Regions from separate parts of the Homo sapiens genome. Here region 1 is linked to region 2. Evidence: fine-mapped QTL for protein levels in blood plasma. A gene starts in region 2. The other region holds a variant in brackets. All regions are shown on one strand. Distances are between the middles of the regions.

Region 1 (5,369 bases), 24 kb before region 2:
AGAGGTCCAGGGAGAAGTGCTGAGCTGGGTTGGGTATCTTGACTCTGAGCCCTTGCCAGGTAAGTGTGGCAGCTGGTGGGCACAGTTCTGGTCTCAGTCACTTCTTCCTCCAGGTGGCAGCTGGAACTGCCAGATAAAGAAAGGTCAGCATAAGGTCTTATCTTGTTCGAAGCCTTTGAACTTTTCAAAGCTTTCAACTCCTCGCTTCCCCTCCTCCTCTCCTCCTCCCTGGCTTTTTGTCCTCTCTCCACCAACCAGCCTTCCTGCAAGGGATGCCAAGCCTCCATCCATCTCTTGATAGAACATGCTTCTAGAGAGCCATGCAGTGTTGGGCTTCCCTACCTAGTAAATCCCAGCTTATAATTTTTTTTTTTTTGAGACAGGGTCTCGCTCTGTCATCCAGGCTAGAGTGCAGTGACATGATCACAGCTCACTGCAGCCTCGACTTCCTGGGCTAAAAAAAAATCCTCCCACCTCAGCCTCCCAAGTAGCTGGGACCACAGACACGTGCCACCACGCCTTGCTAATTTTTGTATTTTTAGCAGAGACGCGGTTTCACTATGTTGCCCAGGCTGGTATCGAACTCCTGGCCTCAAGCCATTCACCCGCCTCAGCCTCTCAAAGTGCTGGGATTACAGGTGTGAACCACCCCACCTGGCTTCCCAGCTCATCAATTCTTTCTGAGACGCAGTCTCTCTCTCTTCTTCCCATCCCCATGTCCTTCTGGGAAGTATACTGCTGGGAGAAGTTGCCAGAATGAATGTTTTTTTTGACCGAGAAAGATGTTTTGCTGTCAGAACTGCTGAAATTCTATCCTGGCTCTAGGTCCCAGCCCTTGCAAAGTTATTGATTCTGAAGAATTCCATGACCTTGTTTCTCTAGGTCAAACCTCTCTATTAAAAGGGTAGTTATACTATCTCACTTCCCAAAATTACAGACCTGTTCATTTCCAGGAAGCCCCTTGAGAACGCATGGGCCTGGGCACAGCAGCTCAAACCTGTATTCCCAGTATTTTGGAAGCCAAAGCAGGAGGATCACTTGAGGCCAGAAGACGAGTCTTACTATGAGCAATATAGTGAGACCTTATCTCTATTTTAAAAAATTAGCCGGGCATGGTGGCACGTACCTGTATTCTCAGCCTCTTAGGAGGCTGAGGCAGGAAGATTGCCTGAGCCCAGGAGTTGGAGGCTGCAGTGAGCCATGACCGTGCCATTGAACTCCAGCCTGGCAACAAAGCAAGACTCTGGCTGGGCATGGTGGCTCTTGACTGTAATCCCAGCACTTTGGGAGGCCGAGGCGGGCGGATCAGTTGAGGCCAGGAGTTTGAGACCAGCCTGGCAAACATGGCAAAACTCTGTCTCTACTAAAAATGCAAAAAATTGCCACATGTGGTGGCATATTCCTGTAGTCCCAGCTACTCGGGAGGCTGAGGCAAGAGAACTGTCTGAACCTTGGAGGCGGAGGTTCCAGTGAGCTGAGATGGTGCCACTGCACTCCAGCCTGGGCGACAGTGTGAGACTCTGTCTCAGAAAAATCAAACAAAAAAAAAGCGAGCCTATCTCTAAGAAAACAAAAGAACTTATGGAAGTTTCCTTCTTCTTTTTTTTTTTTTTTTGAGATGGAGTCTCGCTCTGTCGCCTAGGCTGGAGTGCAGTGGTGGTGAACTCAGCTCACTGCAACCTCTGCCTCCCAGGTTCAAGCGATTCTCCTGCCTCAGCCTCCTGAGTAGCTGGGACTACAGGCGCCCACCACCATGCCTGGCTAATTTTTTTTGTATTTTTAGTAGAGACGGGGTTTCACCGTGTTAGCCAGGATGGTCTCGATCTCCTGACCTTGTGATCTGCCCGCCTTGGCCTCCCAAAGTGCTGGGATTACAGGTGTGAGCCACCGCGCCTGGACTGTTTTGTTTTGTTTTGTTTTTGAGACCAAGTCTCCCTCTGTTGCCCAGACTGGAGCGCAGTGGCACGATCTCGGCTCACTGCAACCTCTGCCTCCTGGGTTCAAGCAATTCCCGTGCCTCAGCCTTCCCAGTAGCTGGGATTACAGGCACATGCCACCATGCCCAGCGGATTTTTTAGTAGAGATGGGTTTTCACCGTGTTGCCCAGGCTGGTCTCAAACTCTTGAGCTTGGGCTATCCACCCAACTGGGCCTCCCAAAGTGCTAGAAATACGGGCGCGCCCGGCCAGAAGTTTCCTTCTTAGAAAGCTGTACGTGGCCCTGTGTGATGGCTCGTGCCTGGTATCCTAGCACTTTGGGAGGACAAGGTGGGAAGATGCTTTGAGCCCAGGAGTTTGAGACCAGCCTGGGCAACACAGGGAGACCCCCATGTCTAGAAAATTAAAAATAAAAAAAAAAATTATCAGGACATAGTGATGTGTGCCTGTGGTCCCAGCTACTTAGGAGGTTGAGGCAGGAGGATCGCTAGAGTTCAGGAGTTGGAGGCTGCAGCGAGCTGTGATTGCATCACTGTACTCCAACCTGGACAACAGATCAAGACCGTGTCTCATCAAAAGAAAGGTGGTCATTTGGGTCTTCCAGTCGCTTATTCTGCCTGAGATACAGGCAAGATTTAGAGGAAATTATTCTGTTACTGACCGTAGCTGAGTAGGGGAGACTAATACTCCCCGAATGCTCAGTGTAAGCAGGCCAGCAAGAGGACCCCAGACCCCTCCTCCCGTGGCTCCTACTAAATCCCACCTTCTGCCTTTTGCCACTAGTTTTTTTTTGAGACGGAGTGTCACTCTGTTGTCCAGGTTGGAGTGCTTTTCAGCCTCTAAAAAGGCATTCCCTGGAAGTCTCTCTC[TCC/C]CCAGCCTTCTAACTTCTGAATAATCTCAAGCCCAAAGGAACATTCAGTTCTTGCTATGGGTCATGCCCGGTCACGACCTTGCTTGGGGAAACATCTCTCAAGACTCAGAATGGGGAAGAGCTGCGCTTCTCCCAAGCAACTGGCAGTTCGTTGTTATGTTCTCGAAGCTGGTGGGATGGGCTGCATTTCCCTTTTTTTATTGGCCAATTGAAAGTTTGGAAGGGAATTTGCTGACTTTTGCTAACCCGCAGATGCCTCCCCTTATCTATCTAGCTGCTATTTGCCCTTGGCTCTGATATGGTCCTGTAACTACAGAGTAGTTTTAGCTTCGGGACAAAGCCTGGCGGAAGCCACCCTGAAGGTTCATTCTCAGCGTTAAGGGTTGGGGGGTAGGACTCTGAGACTGTCAGAGGCAGGACAAGGCACAGGCATGACACAGACCCAGCTCTGAGCCTTGGTTCTGCCATCCATGAGTTTTGTGGCCTTGAACAAACCACAGTTTTCTAGGCTGTAAAAGGGGATAAGAAAACCTCCCTAGGCCGGGTGTCATGGCTCATGCCTGTAATCCCAGCACTTTTGGGGGCCGAGGCAGGTGGATCACTTGAGGTCAGGAGTTCGAGACCAGCCTGGGCAATATGGTGAAACCCTGTCTCTACTAAAAGTACAAAACTTAGCCAGGCGTGGTAGTGCATGCCTATAGTCCCAGCTACTTGGGAGGCTGAGGCAGGAGAATCGCTTGAACCGAGGAGCTGGAGGCTGCAGTGAGCCGAGATTGCACCACTGCACTCCAGCCTGGGTGACAGAGGGAGACCCTGTTTCAAAAAAAAAAAAAAGAAAGAGAAAAAAAGAAAGAAGAAGGCAAGAGAGCAAGAAAGAAAGATAGAAAGAAGAAAGCAAGAGATCAAGAAAGAAAGAAAGAAGAAAGCAAGAGATCAAGAAACAAAGATAGAAAAAGAAAGAGAGAAAGAAAGAAAGAAGGAAGGAAGGAAGGAAAGAGAGAGAAAGAAAGAAGGAAAGAAAGAAAGAAAGAGAAATAAAGAAACCACTCTCCTAGAACCGCTTTCAGGGTAAATGGATTAACTGGTAACAAACAAAAAAGTTTGTTTTTCTTCCAACTCCAGGAGATACGGTTTTTTAGTTGTTTGTTTGTTTGAGACAGGGTCTCACTCCGTCACCCAGGCTGGAGTGCAGTGGTGTGATCGTGTCTCACTGCAACTTCAACCTCCTGGCCTCAAGCGATCCTCTCACCTCAGGCTCCCCAAGTAGCTGGGACTACAGACATGTGCCACCATGCCCAGCTGATTTTTAAGATTTTGTAGAGACAGGGTTCCACTATATTGCCCAGGCTAGTGTTGAACTCCTGGGCTCAAGTAATCCTCCTGCCTCAGCCTCCCAAAGTGCTGGGATTACAGGTGTGAGCCACGGCGCCCGGCCGAAACATGTTTTTATTCTCCTGATTCGGCTTGGTCTCTGTTGCACACAAGCCAGGATGCTGCTTCCTCCAGGAAGAGCTTCCCAGGGCTGGGGAACCCCTCCTAACACACTGTGCCTCCTCTGGCTCCCCTCACTAGCTCCCCATGTGTAGGTCTCACTGGGACAGCAGACAAGGGAGTTTCTTTACATCCACTCCTTACTTCTCTCTTTTTTTTTTTCCTTTTTTCTTCTTCTTTTTTTTTTGTTTGAGATAGAGTCTTGCTCTGTTGCCCACGCTGGAGTGCAGTGGTGCGATCTCGGCTCACTGCAACCTCCGCCTCTCAGGTTCAAGCAATTCTCCTGCCTCAGCCTCCCAAGTAGGTGGGATTACAGGCACGTGCCACCACACCTGGCTAATTTTTGTATTTTTAGTACAGACAAGTTTCACCATGTTGGCCAGCCTGGTCTCAAACTCCTGACCTCAAGGGATCCACCCACCTCAGCCTCCCAAAGTGCTGGGATTACAGGTGTGAGCCACTGCACGCGGTCTCTCTTTCTCTTTCTCTCCCTTCCTTCCTTCCTTCCTTCCTTTCTCTTTCTCTCTTATTTCTCTCTCTCTCTCTTTTTCTTTCTTTCTTTTTTTTATTGACAGAGTCTCACTATGTCGCCCAGGCTGGAGTGCAGTGGCACAATCTTGGCTCACTGCATTCTCTGCCTGCTGGGTTCAAGAGATTCTCCTGCCTCAGCCTCCCGAGTAGCTGGGATTACAGGTGGGCACCACCACGCCCAGTTAATTTTTTTATTTTTAGTAGAGACAGGGTTTCACCATATTACCCAGGCTGGGCTCGACTCCTGACTTCAAGTGATCTGCCCACCTAGGCCCTCCAAAATGCTGGGATTACAGGTGTTACCCACCTCACCTGGCCCGCTTTCTTTTCTTTCTTTCTTTTTCTTTATTTCTTTCTGTCTTTCTTTTCTTTTCTTTTCTTTTCTTTCTTTCTTTCTTTCTCTCTCTCTCCCTCCCTCCCTTCCTCCCTTCCTTCCTTTCTTCTTCCTTTCTTCCTTCCCCTTCCTTCCTCCCCTTCCCCTTCCCCTCCCTCTCTCCCTCTCTCTCTCTCTCTCTCTTTCTTTCTCTCTTTGTTCTTTCT
Region 2 (5,325 bases):
AGACTCATCTTGAACTCCTGACCTCAAGGTATCCACCCCCATCAGCCTACCAAAGTGCTGGCATTACAGGGGTGAGCCACCGGGCCCGACCAATAATTCTTTTTTTAAAGAGACAGAGTCTTGCTCGGTCACCTAGGCTGGAGTGCAGTGGCATGATCATAGTTCACTGCAGCCTTGAACTCCTGGGCTCAAGTGACCCTCCTGCCTCGGCCTCCTGAGTAGCTGGGCCTACAGGTGCACATGCCACCATACTCAGTTAATTTTTATTTAATTAAAAAAAATAGGCCGGGTGGGGTGGCTCACACCTGCAATTTCAGCACTTTGGGAGGCTGAGGCGGGCAGATCAGTTGAGGTCAGGAATTCGAGACCAGCCTGGGCAACATAGTGAAACCCTGTCTCTACTAAAAATACAAAAATTACCCGGGCATGGTGGTGCATGCCTGTAATCCTAGCTACTCAGAGGCTGAGGCAGAAGAATCATTCGAACCCAGGAGGTGGAGGCTGCAGTGAGCTAAGATTGTGCCACTGTACTCCAGCCTGGATGACAGAGCAAGACTCTGTCTCAAAAAAACAAACAAACAGCTGGGCATGGCGGTTTATGCCTGTAATCCCAGCACTTTGGGAGGCTGAGGCAGGTGGATCACTTGAGGTCAGGAGTTCGAGACAAGACTGACCAACATGGTGAAACACCATCTCTACTAAAAATACAAAATTAGCCGGGCGTGATGGCGCATGCCTGTAATCCCAGCTACTTGGGAGGCTGAGTCACGAGAATTGCTTGAGCCTGGGAGGCAGAGGTTGCAGTGAGCCGAGATTGTGCCATAGCACTCCAGCGTATGCAACAGGAGCAAAACTCCATCTCAATAAAAACAAAAACAAAAACAAACCACCCTCTCATGATCATCCAGACTGTTGTGCCTGGTTTGAGTGACAGGCAACTCACCATCTATCCTCTTCCCACCTACAACAGCTCTGACTATCACAAACTTCTGTTAAGTTCTTTTAAAAATTTGGCTGAAGCCAGGTGTGGTGGCTCTCCCCTATAATCCCAGTGCTTTGGGAGGCTGGAGTAAGCAGATCGCCTTGAAGCCAGGAGTTTGAGACCAGCCTGGCAACCTTTGGGCTCTACAAATTTCTTTTTTTTTGTGACAGAGTTTTGCTCTTTTTTCTTAGGCTGGAGTGCAATGGCACGATCTTGGCTCACTGCAACCTCTGCCCCCCAGGTTCAAGTGACTCTCCTGCCTCAGCCTCCCAAGTTGCTCGGATTACAAGCATGAGCCACCACAAAATTAGCCCGGCTAATTTTTGTATTTTTAGTAGAGACGGGGTTTCACCATGTTCGCCAGGCTGATCTCAACCTCCTGACCTCAGACGATCCCCCTGCCTCTGCCTTCCAAAGTGCTGGGATTACAGGCGTGAGCCACTGTGACTGGCCCCACACACACACACAAAATAATAATAATAATTGACCAGGTATGGCCAGACGTGGTGGCTCACTGTAATCCCAACATTTTTGAAGGCCAAGGTGAGACAGTCACTTGAGCCAAGAGTTTAAGACCAACCTGGGCCACATAGAGAGACCTCATCTCTATTTTTTTTTCTTTTTTGAGACAGTCTTGGTCTGTCGCCCAGGCTGGAGTGCAATGGCGGGATCTCGGCTCACTGTAACCTCTGCCTCCTGCATTCAAGCGATTCTCCTGCCTCAGCCTCCCTAGTAGCTGGGATTACAGGTGCCCGCCACCGTGCCTGGCTAATTTTTTTATTTCTAGTGGGGACGGGGTTTCACCATGTTGACCAGGCCCTCTCTCTCACTATATATATATATTATTTGTTGTTGTTTGTTTGTTTTGTTTTGTTTTAAGCCTCGGGTGATTGTGATGATCTGTCAGGTTTGGGATCTGTTAGATCTCTCAAATGCCCCCAGCCAGCCCTGGCCCTACAGGTGTGGCCCCAAGAAGATGGGCTGGCACCTGCCTGGACCCTGTTTTTAAATATCCATTGTCGAGGTTGGGCTACTCTATGATCACATCTTGAGACCATCCAGAGCTCCACACAGAGATAAGCAATGCTTAGAAAGGAAACAAAACTTTGCCCAAGAGCCAGAAACCTATCTTCAACAACCAATTGTGCTATAAAGTAACTTAGTTCAGTTCACTGGAATATTACTTAATTTCCTCTGCTTTTTCTTTTTAAACAAGAAAGTGTTGACTCAGCCAACAGCACTGGGAACCAGACTCCCTGGGGCCTGCCTGCCCCTGCTCTTCTCCCAAATTCTCTTCTTTTTTTGTCCCTGTTGATGGAATTCAATAAAGGGATCTCTACCATCTGTCACTTGTTTTTTTTTGTTGTTTGTTTGTTTGTTTTTTTTTTTTTTGGCAGAGTCTCACTCTGTCGCCCAGGCTGCAGTGCAGTGGTGCCATCTCAGCTCACTGCAACCTCCACCTCCCAGGTTCAAGTGATTCTCCTGCCTCACCCTCAGGAGTAGCTGGGATTACAGTTGCCTGCCACCATGCCCGGCCAATTTTTGTGTTTTTAGTAGAGACAGGGTTTCTCCATGTTGGCCAGGCTGATCTTGAACTCCTGACCTCAAGGGATCCGCCCACCTCGGTCTCCCAGAGTGCTGTGATCACAGGCATGAGCCACCACGCCCAGTGCCAGATTATCTTTCTTCACTGTCTAATTTCATTCCTATGAGTATTAGTTTACTTTTCCTTTGTTGGGTCAAAAGTGCTGCTTCTGTTCCCAACCACAGAATTCTCTGGAATTGTTTTCAGGGCCGTCTCAGTCTCATAAAAGGGGATCAGGCAGGAGGAGTTTGGGAGAAACCTGAGAAGGGCCTGATTTGCAGCATCATGATGGGCCTCTCCTTGGCCTCTGCTGTGCTCCTGGCCTCCCTCCTGAGTCTCCACCTTGGAACTGCCACACGTACGTAGCTGGCCCATTCCCCTCCTGGGGTTCCTTCCCGGACCGCCTGGGAGTGGATGGAAATGAGTATCTCCAAACCCTTCCTCTCCCTGATTTTTAGGTGGGAGTGACATATCCAAGACCTGCTGCTTCCAATACAGCCACAAGCCCCTTCCCTGGACCTGGGTGCGAAGCTATGAATTCACCAGTAACAGCTGCTCCCAGCGGGCTGTGATGTGAGTATTTCTCGGACGTACTTTCTGGGGCCCCATCAGTCATGCAACAGGATGGGTGCTGGGCAGACCCCCAGGATGAGCCTTGGGATGGGAACCTGGAAACCCCACCTCTGCACACTAACAAGTGTGACTCTGAGCTTCAGGTAGAACCTGACTTTTTTTTTCTCTTTTTGAGACGGAGTTTCTTTCTTGTTGCCCAGGCTAGAGTGCAATGGCACGATCTTGGCTCACTGCAACCTCCCCCTCCCGGGTTCAAGCAATTTTCCTGCCTCAGCCTCCCAAGTAGCTGGAATTACAGGCACATGCCACCATGCTCAGCTAATTTTTGTGTTATTAGTAGAATTTCACCATGGTTGGCCAGGCTGGTCTTAAACTTCTGAGCTCATGTGATTTGCCCGCCTCAGCCTCCCAAAATGCTGGGATTACAAGTGTGAGTCACTGGACCCAGCCAATCCCCACTTTTAATAAACTCACAGTGAAGTAAGAGCTCAGGAATCATCAGCTATGATGAATAACCTTGAAAATGTGGCTAACAATTAAATGACATGTTGAGTGCAGGGTTCCTTTCTGGGGTGATGAAAATATCCTAAAATTGATTGTGGTGATGGTTGCATAATCTATGACTATACTAAAAACCATTGAATTATAATTATAGCCTTTAAATTGGTGGAGTTGTACATGGTGGGGAGGTTTAGACGATCGCTTGAGCCCAGGAGTTCAAGGCTGCAGTGAGGTATGATCGCACCACTGCACTCCAGCCTGGGTAACACAGAGAGACTTCATCCCTAACAAAAGAGAAAAAAAAGAGTGAATTACAGTTATCCCCCAGTAACCACAGGGGATTGGTGCCAGGATTTTGGCATACAATTTCCCCTGAATTTATGCAGCTTTTGCATCACCGAGTTTTGTATTTTCTATCCTCCTTTGGTTGGCAAAAGGCTGCCTATGAGTGGGCCCACAGAGTTCAAATCCGTGTTGTTCAAGAGTCAACTGTATGTGCCGTGTGAATTATATCCCAACAAAGCTGTTCTATTACAATGAAAGAATCAGCCAGGTGAGGTGGCGCAGGCCTGTAAGCCCAGTTACTCCGGAGGCTGAGGCAGGAGAATCGCTTGAACCCGGGAGGCGGAGTTTGCAGGAGTAGAGATCGCGCCACTGCACTCCAGCCTGGGTGACAAGAGAGAAACTGTTTCAAAAAAAATAAAATAGGCCGGGCGTGGTGGCTCACGCCTGTAATCCCAGCACTTTGGGAGGCTGAGGTGGGCAGATCTCCTGAGGTTGGGAGTTCGAGACCAGCCTGACCAACGTGGAGAAACCCTGTCTCTACTAAAAATACAAAATTAGCTGGACGTGGTGGCGCATGCCTGTAATCCCAGCTACTTGGGAGGCTGAGGCGGAAGAATCACTTGAACCTGGGAGGCAGAGGTTGTGGTGAGCCGAGATCGCGCCATTGCACTCCAGCCTGGGCAACAAGAGTGAAACTCCGTCTCAAAAAAAATAAAAAATAAAACAAAATAAAGGCTAGGCGTGGTGGCTCACACCTGTTATCCCAGCACTTTGGGAGGCCAACACAGGCGGATCACCTGAGGTCAGGAGTTCGAGACCACCCTGGCCAACATGGCAAAACCTTGTCTCTATTAAAAACACAGAAATTCGCTGGGTGTGCTGATGCGTGCCTATAATCCCAGCTACTTGGGAGTCTGAGGCAGGAGCATCACTTGAACCTGGGAAATGGAGGTTGCAATGAGCTGAGATCATGCCATTGCACTCCAATGTGGGCAACAGAGTGAGAGTTCGTCTCAAAAAAAAAAAAAAAAAATTAAGTGTCCTGGTGCAGGTTACATGCTGCAGGCTAGAACTGGTGGAAAACGGTAAATGGTACCTGGTAGAGGTGGGTCTGGAGGCATAGTTTCCAGTGGAAATCAAGATAGGAAAGAGGAGGGAGACAAGGCCCAGGAGAAGAGGGGACAGGGACAGAGAGCAACAAGTTTGTGGCAAGGCCAGAAGACTAGTGAGAGAGCTGCCCCTCCTTCCCTTTCTATCCCACCCCAGGAGGCAAAGAGTCTCAATATTGACTTATCCGTGTCTCTTTTTCACAGATTCACTACCAAAAGAGGCAAGAAAGTCTGTACCCATCCAAGGAAAAAATGGGTGCAAAAATACATTTCTTTACTGAAAACTCCGA

The links. PIP is the posterior inclusion probability: the model's chance that the variant is causal. The UK Biobank Pharma Proteomics Project read protein levels with antibody pairs (Olink). The fine-mapping took linkage between variants from a reference panel, not from the people measured, so its PIPs are less certain.
Region 1: its variant is fine-mapped to the plasma level of the CCL26 protein (UK Biobank, PIP above 0.99).

What each region holds. Positions count from the first base shown.
Region 1 is chr7:75,793,727-75,799,095 of GRCh38, reverse strand. No RefSeq gene overlaps it. Among named protein-coding and RNA genes, the nearest start is that of CCL24, 17 kb to the left of the region's middle. The variant TCC/C (reference allele first, on the strand shown) is at 2,806.
Region 2 is chr7:75,769,704-75,775,028 of GRCh38, reverse strand. It overlaps CCL26 (C-C motif chemokine ligand 26), which reads left to right and starts at 2,818. Exons shown (of 3, transcript NM_001371938.1): 1 at 2,818-2,925; 2 at 3,026-3,140; 3 at 5,240-5,325. The coding sequence starts at 2,853. RefSeq lists a silencer at 2,004-2,298.